Linked DNA regions of Homo sapiens. The protein of the gene in region 1 interacts with the protein of each later gene in a pairwise test. Each region holds a gene or a part of one and is shown in the gene's direction. Other genes may lie near its edges. The genes, in order: KATNBL1, ZC2HC1C and TCEANC.

Region 1 (3,679 bases):
GGAGACAGAGCAAGACTCCATCTCAAAAAAAGAAAAAATAGATACCAGAATAAGTGTATCTATTCTAGGTACAATGAACATGGTTCCTGCTCTCATGGAGCTCACAGTCTAGTGAGAGGTCATGGGCAATAAGTGCATAAGCTAATTTCCAGATGGTGATAAATGTGGTGGGGGAAAAATACAGGGTACTGCTATAGAGAATGATTGTAAGTGAGGGTGGGGTTATTCTTGATTGGGTGGTGAGTGTGTGGGAGGAATATTTTAAGCAGAAAGAATGGCTCAGCCACAAAATGGAAATAAGTTTGAAATGTTGAAGGACAGAAGGCCAGTGTGGCTGAAGCATTTAGGAAGCTATTATATAGTCTAAAGGAGTTGGTGGTTTGGTCTAGAATGGTGGTAATGGAAATGGAAAGAAACGGACAGCTTGGGAATATATTATAAAGGCAAAGTCAACAAATTGGATGTAGGTTATTAAGGAAAAAAGAAATCAAGGATGAATCCTTTATTTCAGGCTTGAGAAATTGGAAGGAGGATGGTTCCGTTTACTGAGTTAGGGACTGTTGGGAGGAGCAGATTTGAGAGGGGGGATATTAAGGGTTCTATTTTTAATATGTTAAGTTCAAGAATAGATGACTATTGGATATCCATGTGGAGCTGGCTAGTAGGCAGTTGGAGATTTGAATCCAGAGTTTAGGTGAAACAGTATGATGAGAGATTTTATTTATTTATTTTTATTTTTTTTGAGACAGAGTCTTGCTGTCGCCCAGGCTGGAGTGCAATGGCGTGATCTTGGCTTACTGCAACCTCCGCCTTCCGGGCTCAAGCAATTCTTCTGCCTCAGCCTCCCCAGTGGCTGGGATTACAGGTGCCTGCCACCATGCCCAGCTAATTTTTGTATTTTTAGTAGAGATGGGTTTTCACCGTATTAGCCAGGCTGGTCTCGAACTCCGGACCTCAGGCAATCCGCCCACCTAGGCCTCCCAAAGTGCTGAGATTACAGGCGTGAACCACCGCGCCTGGCCGAGATTTTATTCTTAAATGAAAGTTAATATGTTAATTTTTGTTATAGTTAAGTCTTGGACACAGGAGTCATATTTTCTTGAGCCTGCAAGTGATTCTTCTGTTGGAGAAGAAAGTGTTCCCTGAGAGAGGAGGCATTTTCAAACCTTAATATACGTTCTGATTTCAGCCTAGGAGATATGGTGGTGCCCAACCACTGTAACTGTTGGGGATGTAATATAATCCTCACAAGTTTTGGAACATAAAGGTTTAAGAACCGTTGTTATAAAAAGATTTTGAATGTCTCTAGTATCATTTTTGTTAATTCTTAAAGGATGATCTACCCTTTTTTCCAAGGCTTAGGGTATACTTAACCCTGTTGACTTCTGGTACTGTAGAAATTAGGCACAAGTGTCGTAGGGTGGTGACATTAGTCCAAATAATGAAGATAGAGTTTTTTAATTAATTTATATTAGCTCATCATTTTGAGAGTTGAATACTACTTTATTGGTATATCCTCTCATATGTAGAGAGTCTATTGGTTTTGAAAGTATCAGAAATACCTTTAGTAGGCAAACAAGGGTCAAAAATGATCCTTAAAGTGACAATGTTTTATGTATGTATACATTCATCCCTCATTATCTATGGGCGATTGGTTCCAGGACCTCCCAATGATATCACAATCCGAGGATGCTCAAATCCCTGATATAAAGTGGTGTAGTATTTCCACATAACCTTTGCACATCCTCCCATACACCTTAAATAATTTCTAAATTATTTGTAATATCTAGTACAATGTAAATGCTATGTAAATAGTTGTTATACTGTATTATTGGGGGAATAGTGATGAGAAAAATAAGTCTACATATTCAGTAGAGATGTATTTTTTTTCTAAATAGTTTTGATTGGGAATTGATTGAATCCACAGATGCTGAACCCACGGATACAGAGGGCCAGTTGTATATATATTTTCCATTTCTGAGTCCAAGAAGACAATTAAAACAGAATCAAGTATTTTTTCCTCCCTGTTGAATATTTCCAGAAAATACTGGGTTATTCTAACAGGGAAAGTAAATTGGAATTTGGCGAATTCACCAAAACATGCTAGAATAATCATAACCATCTACTTCTAGGCGTAAGAAGTCCTAAGTCTTCCCAAAGATTCAGGTGTTTTATAGCCATTTAAGAAAATATGTATATAATACTCTAATACATTATAATTAAGTTAAAACATACTTGCACATTATACAAAATTCAAAAGGCCCAAAAGGGAAAAGTCTTCTCCCTTCACCCCCTAGCCACACATATCCTCTCACTAGAAGTGACTTTTGTCCCCAGTTTCTCTCATATCCTTCAAAAGATATTTAGTGAATATACAAGTAGTCCCTCACAGACACACACTTTTTAACCTAAGTGGTAACATAGTGTTTTGCTACCTTACTTTTTTCTCCCTACTTTCCAGTATAAGGCATAGTTATGTTTTTTAAAAAGCCTGTGTAGGTCCACAACTATGGATGGTGATAAACATCTACCTAGTTCTTTAATTTTATTTTCCCATTATTAGTCCCAGTTCCCTAATGTAGTAATCTAAGTGGACTTGATTAAAACTGAGGAAGAGGCCGGGTGTGGTGGCTCAAGCCTGTAATCCCAGCACTTTGGGAGGCCGAGGAGGGCAGATCACGAGGTCAGGAGATCGAGACCATTCTGGCCAACATGGTGAAACCCTGTCTTTACTAAAATACAAAAAATTAGCCAGGTGTGGTGGTGTGCACCTGTAATCCCAGCTACTTGGGAGGCTGAGGCAGGGGAATCGCTTGAACCTGGGAGGCAGAGGTTGCAGTGAGCTGAGATGGCGCCACTGCACTCCAGCCTGGCGACAGAGCAAGACGCTGTCTCAAAAAACAAAACAAAACAAAACAAAAACACTGAGGAAGAGGTAGTAGGAAAGCTAATTCCCACTTGGCATCTCTTTTGTAATTTTTATTTCAGGGTATCTCAGTCATAAGAGAGTTGGAATTCAGTTTGATCCAAATTGATTGAAATGATATAGTATTGTACCCACTGAATCTCCAGACATCTGTCTTTATTTTCATGCTTGATCTGCTTTCCCGAGTTTGACGTTATTTCTCAAATCAGCTTACTGTGGAAAACTGAATTAAGAGAAAGTGGTGGGCGGGGCGTGGTGGCTCACGCCTGTAATCCCAGCATTTTGGGAGGCTGAGGCAGGTGGATCAAGAGGTCAGGCGTTCGAGACCAGCCTGGCCAATATGGTGAAACCCCATCTCTACTAAAAATACAAAAAAAAAAAACAATTAGCTGGGCGTGGTGGCACGCACCTGTAATCCCAGCTACTCAGGAGGCTGAGGCACGAGAATCTCTTGAATGCGGGAGGCGAAGGTTGCAGTGAGCCGAGATGGCGCCACTGCACTCCAGCCTGGGAGACAGAGGAAGACTCCATCTCAAAAAAAAAAGAAGAGAGAGAGAGAAAGTGGTGTGATGAATCATCATTCAGGAAATATTAAACCCTTGAGATATCAACTTTGAGTTGTTCCGAGTAGGTGAGAGGTGAAGCCAGCTGGGTTTCTGGGTTGGGTGGGGACTTGGAGAACTTTTCTGTCTAGCCAGAGGATTGTAAATGCACCCATCAGTGCTCTGTGTCTAGCTAGAGGATTGTAAATGC
Region 2 (3,679 bases), on another chromosome or scaffold:
AATTAAGTTTGGAATTCTTTTTCTGCCCATTTAGAATGTAAACACCTTGAAGGTAAAAAGGACTTTCTTTCTGGTTATCTTACAAACCATGCCCTTGCCAATTATTTCTCACTTTAGAAAAACCAGGTTGGAAAAAGTAAGGGTTTCGTGACACTTACATGATAAATTTAGGTGAACTTCATAGGCACATTTGGACATATCTGGAGAAGATTGTCTCATAAATGAATGACATGTCAAGGTTGTGCCACTTGGTTTATAAAATGGTTATTTCTCAAGGTGTGGCATGCTGACAAACTTTATTTTAGTAGTTTTAGTGTTTAGTGTTGTATTAGAAAAATTGATTCGTCGTTTAGTGTTATATTAGGAAAATATAACAATATATTAAGCCCCTGATTTCCAGGGATCATGAATTTACAGAAAAATATTAATTAGTTGTAAGGATGAAGTGAAAGTGCAGATGATTGAAGTTTGGGAAAGCGTAGATCATATGATCTCAGAGGCCCCATCTAGTTCTAATATTCCAGAAGAATAAGAGAGTGTCATTCTGTTTTCATTTCTTCCCAACCCTCCCTCCGCTGTGCTGGCACCTCTTGTCCATTGGCACTTTACAGTTTCTGTGTATTTGCTGGAGCCTTTAAAAACTCACATTTATATGATGGTTGTTAGAAGAAATTGTTTACAATTAGAGTTCTTTCTTTTAGTAGTTTGGAGAAATCACAAGGAAGTCCCATCCATGTTCAGAGATCATCTCCCTGAAATCTAGTTTCCAAAGAAGAAATCAGCATTTTGCTCTTGCAGATAATAATATGATCACCACTTACTGTTTTTTCCTGTTTTCTTTCAGTTCAACCCAGTAATCCACTGGGAATTCACTCTATGTCCCACTGTAGCGATTTATTTTTGGCCAGAGCCTAAAAGAATCTTGTGTTTCTTAAATTCGTAAATACAGTTACGGTGAAGCAAAATAATTAGGTTCCTGAGATCAGATGCTCCAGCTTTATGGCAACTAGTTTGTGGGAATGTGTGACATTGAGGACACCAAGACAGAAGGGACCTAGACTAAGATGCACCTGCACCACCCTGGTAATGTCTCAAATCTTATTCCACAGTGCTGTGCCTTTGGAAGCTGAGTGGTTGTACCTTCCTGTCATTCCTCTAGAGTACTCAAGAACAGGTGATTTTCCTGGTATCCTTTAATCTTCACGTAACTCCCAGCAGACGTACACCCTGTCTCTCTCCTGGACTGTAAGCATTTTTGAGGACAGGGAACATATTTTGTGCTTTGTGCTTAATAAGTGTTAACTGAATAGAATTTCAGTACAATGAGGAATAAAATTATAGGAATTAGAGTATAAGAAGTAAATTACTAAAGGATCTCATATACTTGAGGAACTTTCCCCTGATCAAATTCTTTGAGAGGAACTTTCCCCTGATCAAATTCTTTTTTTGAGACCGAGTCTCGCCCTGTTGCCCAGGCTGGAGTGCAGTGACGCGATCTCGGCTCACTGCAGCGATCTTGGCTCACTGCAGCCTCCACCTACCGGGTTCAAGCAATTCTCTGCCTCAGTCTCCTGAGTAGCTGGGATTACAGGTGCCCGCCACCACACCCAGCTAATTTTTGTATGTTTAGTAGAGACGGGGTTTCACCATCTTGCCCAGGCTGGTCTTGAACTCCTGACCTTGTGATCCACACGCCTCAGCCTCCCAAAATGTTGGGATTACATGCATGAGCCACCGTGCCTGGTCTTCGAATTCTTTTAAAGGTTCCTGGATACCATCGCTAATACTCTCTTGCCTTCTTGTCTGTTTTGGCAAGAGACTTTCTGGAAGGATCCTTTCTTTTCCTTTGATAGTATCTCTTCCTATTATTCATCATTAACAATGCCAGATCACCAAGAGCTAGTTGTCTTTTTTCTCTTTAAAAAATTTAATAGTGTTTGCATGCATTTAAAAAACATGTAGTACTGAATGACCTATAATGGAACCCCTAATTCAGCCCCCGGAGGCAGCCTTCAGTTCTGTTAGATGGTTCTTCTGGTCTGCCTTTCCATATTTCCAAATAATATGCTTATTTTCTTGATTTATCAATTTTCTACATTACCTGTTTTTTTTTGTTTTGTTTTGTTTTTTTTGAGACGGAGTCTCTGTCGCCCAGGCTGGAGTGCAGTGGCTTGATCTTGGCTTACTGCAACCTTCACCTCCCGTGTTCAAGCAATTATTGTGCCTCAGCCTCCTGAGTAGCTGGGCTTACAGGCGAGTGCCACCACGCCCGGCTAATTTTTGTATTTTTAGTTAAGACAGGGTTTCACCAAGTTGGCCAAGTTGGTCCTGAACTCCTAACCTCAAGTCATCTGCCCACCTCGGCCTCCCAGAGTGCTGGGATTACAGGCGTGAGCCACGGTGCCTGTTCTACCTGGTAACTTCTTATGGAAGCTGGGAGTGAAGTTCTCTTTCATATTCCCTCTCTCCTACTGTTCTCTTTCTCTTATCCTTCCACTGTAGTCGAATCACAATTTTTGGTTAAAAGTAGTTAGCTTTCACATTGTAATGATCAAGTAAATTTTGTTCATTAATGAGTGAACAAATTCTGTCTCTGCCCACATGTACCTAAAATTAATAATGGACGTATGTTTTCATTTCCTTCATTTTCTACATACCTGTCTTTTTCTCCCCCGCAACGATCCATCTGATATCAGACATCTGTTAACGTTTTTGTAATGCTCAAACACCTCTCATAATCTATCAGTTTGATTTTTTAATTCTGAAAACCTCCCTTCAGCCACTCTGATCCCTTCTGCTCCAACCTGGACTGGGTATTCTCTAGGCCTGGTGCAAACTCATTCTCTTGGAACTTCTCTTTGCTTCTCTTCTTTGTTGGGTCCTCTGTTTCCAGCATCCTGTGTCTTCCTTTTTCTTGCATTACTCCTTCCTTTGCTGAAGCTTACTAAGAAGGGTGCATAGCAGGTATATTGTCTTGGAATGAATGACACTATCTATATGACAGGCTCCCATTTGATGATTTGGCTAGGTACAGAATTCTAGGAGGAAAATGATTATCTGTTAGAACTTTTAAAGTATTTCCCACTAGCTTTTAGCATCCAGTGTATTGTTGTGAAATCTAATGCCATTTTGATTCCTGTTCCATTACAAGAAACCTTTTTTTTTAAAAGGCTACGGGATTCTCTATTTATTTTGAAATTCTGAAACTTTACAATAATTGTGCTAGATACTTGGTAAGCCATTTCAATCTCAAAATGTGTGACCTTTAATTCTAGGAATGTTAATTGTATTATTTCCTTAATAATTTTCTCCTCACCAGGTGCTGTGGCTCACGCCTATAATCCCAGTACTTTGGGAGGCTGAGGCAGGTGGATCACCTGATCTCATGTGTTCAAGACCAGCCTGACCAATATGGTGAAACCCCATCTCTACTAAAAATACAAAAATTAGCCGGGCGTGGTGGCGCACGCCTGTAGTCTCAGCTACTTGGGAGGCTGAGATAGGAGAATCGCTTGAATCTAGGAGGCTGACGTTGCAGTCAACCAAGATTGCGCCACTGCACTCCAGCCTGGGTGACAAAGCAAGACTCCATCTCAAATAACAACAACAACAAAAACAAAACAAAACAAAACAACAATAATTTTCTCCTCGTGCTTTCTCTGTTCCTTCTGCAACTCTT
Region 3 (3,611 bases), on another chromosome or scaffold:
CATTTTATATGTTCTTTTATTGACCTTTTCTTCATATTTCTTTAAAAAATTTTAATTGTGATAAAATATACAAAACATAAAATTTACTGTGTTAAGCCCTTTTTTTTTTTTTTTTTTGACAGAGTCTCGCTCTGTCGCCAGGTTGGAGTGCAGTGGCATGATCTCGGCTCACCGCAAACTCTGCCTCCCGGGTTCAAGCAATTCTCCTGCCTCGGCCTTCCGAGTAGCTGGGACTACAGGTATGCGCCACTACATCCAGCTAACTTTTTGTATTTTTGGTGGAGACAAGGTTTCACCATGTTGGCCAGGATAGACTCGATCTCTTGACCTCATGATCCACCCACCTTGGCCTCCCAAAGTGCTGGGATTGCAGGTGTGAGCCACCACGCCCAGCCTGTCTTAAGCCTTTTTAAGTATACAGTTCAGTAGTGTTATGTACATTCTCGTTCCAGAGGGGAGGTGGGTAGAAGGTGATTGATTCATTGCTCATACCATTTTTCAGTAGGTATATCTTAAGTGCATATAGTTTATCATGAAATTGCGTTAGACCAATAACTTTTCTGATTATGAAAGCAATACATGCTCATCACAGAAAATACAGAAGAGGAAAATAACAAATGAAAATTACCTAAAATCTTACCATTCAGAAAATGCCCCTCTTTAAAATTTTGTGTATCTCTTTTCAGTCTTTTCACATGTAATTCTTAAATAAAATTTGGATCAAATTCTATTTTTAAATAACACCTTTATTCAGATGTAATTCACGCACCATACAGTTCACCTAAAGTGTACAATTCAGTGTTTTTTAGTATACTCAGTTGTATAACCCATCACCACAAATAAATCTTGAGAAGATTTATGTGTGCCACCACCTCCCAAGAAAATCCCTGAACTTTATCAGCTGCTCCTCCTCCTTCACCCCACTGCCCTTCTGCCCTACCCTACCTAGTCAACAACTGATCTATTTTCTGTCTCTATAGATTTGCCTGTTTTGGACATTTCATGTAAATAAAATCATACAATATGTGGACTTTTCTGTCTGGCTGCTTCTGCTCAGCATAATGTTTTCAAGGTTCATCCATGTTGTAACTGTATCAATACTTCATTCCTTTTCATGGCAGAATAATATTCTGTTGTGTGGATAAATCACATTTTATTTATCCATTCATCAGTTGATGGACATTTCGATTATTTCCCATTTTTGGCTATTGTGAATAATACTGCTATGAACATTTGTATACAAGTTTTTGTGTGGACATATGTTTTCATTTCTCTTGGATCTGCTGGGTCATATGATAACTGGTTTATTCATTTATTTATTATTATTTTTTTTTAGACAGAGTCTTGCTGTGTTGCCCAGGCTGGAGTGCAGTGGCACGATCTTGGCTCACTGCAAACTCCGCCTTCCAGGTTCATGCCATTCTCCTGCTTCAGCCTCCCAAGTAGCTAGGACTACAGGTGCCCGCCACCACACCCGGCTAATTTTTTGTATTTTTAGTAGAGATGGGGTTTCACCATGTTAGCCAGGATGGTCTCGATCTCCTGACCTCGTGATCTGCCTGCCTCGGCCTCCCAAAGTGCTGGGATTACAGGGTGAGTCACCATGCCCGGCCCATATGTTAACTGTTTAGTCTTTTATATAGTTTTACATCTTGATTGTTTTTCACCTAACTTTATGACCATTTTTCCATGTCGTTAAATATTATCTAAATACATGATTTTTAAATGGTTATATTACTGTATCCTAGGAGTGTGCCATATTTTTAACCATTCTCCATTTAACCATTTGAGGGCCTTCTAATTTCTCCTTAGAAGAAAATTCTTACATATGCAGTCTCCACATCTCTCATTTCCTTAAAGTAAATTTATGGAAGTAGAATTACTAAAAGGTCATTATGTTTTATGTCACTTGTCATATGGTGTCTGGGAAGACTGCGTGAATTCTCTCTCTAAACACTTCAGTGTTCTTAGCCTGTGTATGTTCGGTGGTGATTATTTAATATCAAGTGCTATAAAACAGAGCCCATGGATTTTTGAAAAGACACAGTCCCTGCCATCAAGATGCTTATGTTCACATTTAGACCAGACAGATAAATATAGATCCAAGGGTATTATATAGACAAGATTATGTACATTATGTGGAGGGAAAAAATAGACTGCATAGATAAAAGTAAACATTTGCCTGCCTAGGATGAAATTCACACAGACATAATCATTGAGCAACTCTTTACACTTAAAAATTTTTTAAAAATTAACAAAACCAAAATGTAAGAACCAGTTAGTCTAAAGTCATAAATCATCTGGATCATTGAGTCTGAACCTTTCCCTTGTTCAGAAGACTCCTAAGGCAGCACAGTGTAGCCTGTTGGCTTTTGGGACCCGCAGACGTATCTCTAGCTGCTTTTCAACCTGTGCTGTCTCACATTTTCCTTAGATTGCTTGAGACATTAGCAAACCCTTTCTGTCTTGTTTCTCTTTTATTTTCAGAAGAGTACCACTTTAAAGATTATGAAATGAGCAAGTAGTTCAGTTATATAGCTGACTCTGGGGAAAAATTGTCTAGCACTGTTCAGCATTGCCATATTGATGCTGACACCGGCATGATTTCACCTCCAACATGACCACCGGATTCCGCCCAAATGGATTGACTAATCTAGAAAGATCATTGATTTGTAAAATTGGAGGTGGAAAAGCTATAGCAGATCCTCCGGCAAGCCTCTTAAGCAGATGTTATGTAGAGGCTCTGCAATGCTGTTTGTTTGTTTTTCACTCGTAGGAATTAAACTCTTGAGAGTAAACCATACCGTCACCTTAAAGATTCCATTTTCTAGCGTGTCGCATACATTTGTATTACATGACTCTTTCGGAAAACATTGCCTAGGTAACTGACAGAAAGTGCTATTTTAGTATCCAGAAGCTGCGACTAGCAACGGCAAACTTAAGAAAACTGAAACCTCTTTTTTCTTTGCAGCTGTAAAGATGTCTGACAAGAACCAGATAGCTGCCAGAGCTTCTCTTATTGAGCAACTGATGTCCAAAAGGAATTTTGAGGATCTTGGCAACCACCTTACTGAGCTAGAAACAATTTATGTGACTAAGGAGCATCTCCAGGAGACAGATGTGGTCAGAGCTGTGTACAGAGTCCTCAAAAACTGCCCCTCTGTGGCTTTGAAAAAGAAAGCCAAGTGTTTGCTATCAAAGTGGAAAGCTGTTTATAAGCAGACTCACTCCAAAGCGAGGAACAGCCCTAAATTATTTCCTGTGAGGGGTAATAAAGAAGAAAATTCAGGACCTTCTCATGACCCAAGTCAGAATGAGACACTGGGCATCTGCAGCTCGAATTCTCTGTCTTCCCAAGACGTTGCAAAACTCAGTGAAATGATTGTGCCTGAAAATAGAGCCATTCAATTGAAACCTAAGGAAGAGCATTTTGGGGATGGTGACCCTGAATCCACTGGCAAGAGATCGAGTGAGTTGCTGGATCCCACAACACCCATGAGAACTAAATGCATAGAGCTTCTTTACGCAGCTTTAACTAGTTCTTCCACAGATCAACCCAAAGCTGATTTGTGGCAAAACTTTGCAAGAGAAATTGAAGAGCATGTTTTTAC

Evidence for each region.
Region 2: the proteins of KATNBL1 (region 1) and ZC2HC1C interact in binary tests that used the Homo sapiens proteins (3 or more experiments, as listed by UniProt).
Region 3: the proteins of KATNBL1 (region 1) and TCEANC interact in binary tests that used the Homo sapiens proteins (3 or more experiments, as listed by UniProt).

The regions. Positions count from the first base shown.
Region 1 is NC_000015.10:34,200,052-34,203,730, reverse strand, and holds part of KATNBL1 (KATNB1-like protein 1), read left to right. Parts: intron 1-3,679.
Region 2 is NC_000014.9:75,072,462-75,076,140, forward strand, and holds part of ZC2HC1C (zinc finger C2HC domain-containing protein 1C), read left to right. Parts: intron 1-3,679.
Region 3 is NC_000023.11:13,659,530-13,663,140, forward strand, and holds part of TCEANC (transcription elongation factor A N-terminal and central domain-containing protein), read left to right. Parts: intron 1-122; 5' UTR 123-157; coding exon of another isoform or gene 158-239; intron 240-1,501; 5' UTR 1,502-1,593; intron 1,594-2,971; coding exon of another isoform or gene 2,972-2,979; coding exon 2,980-3,611.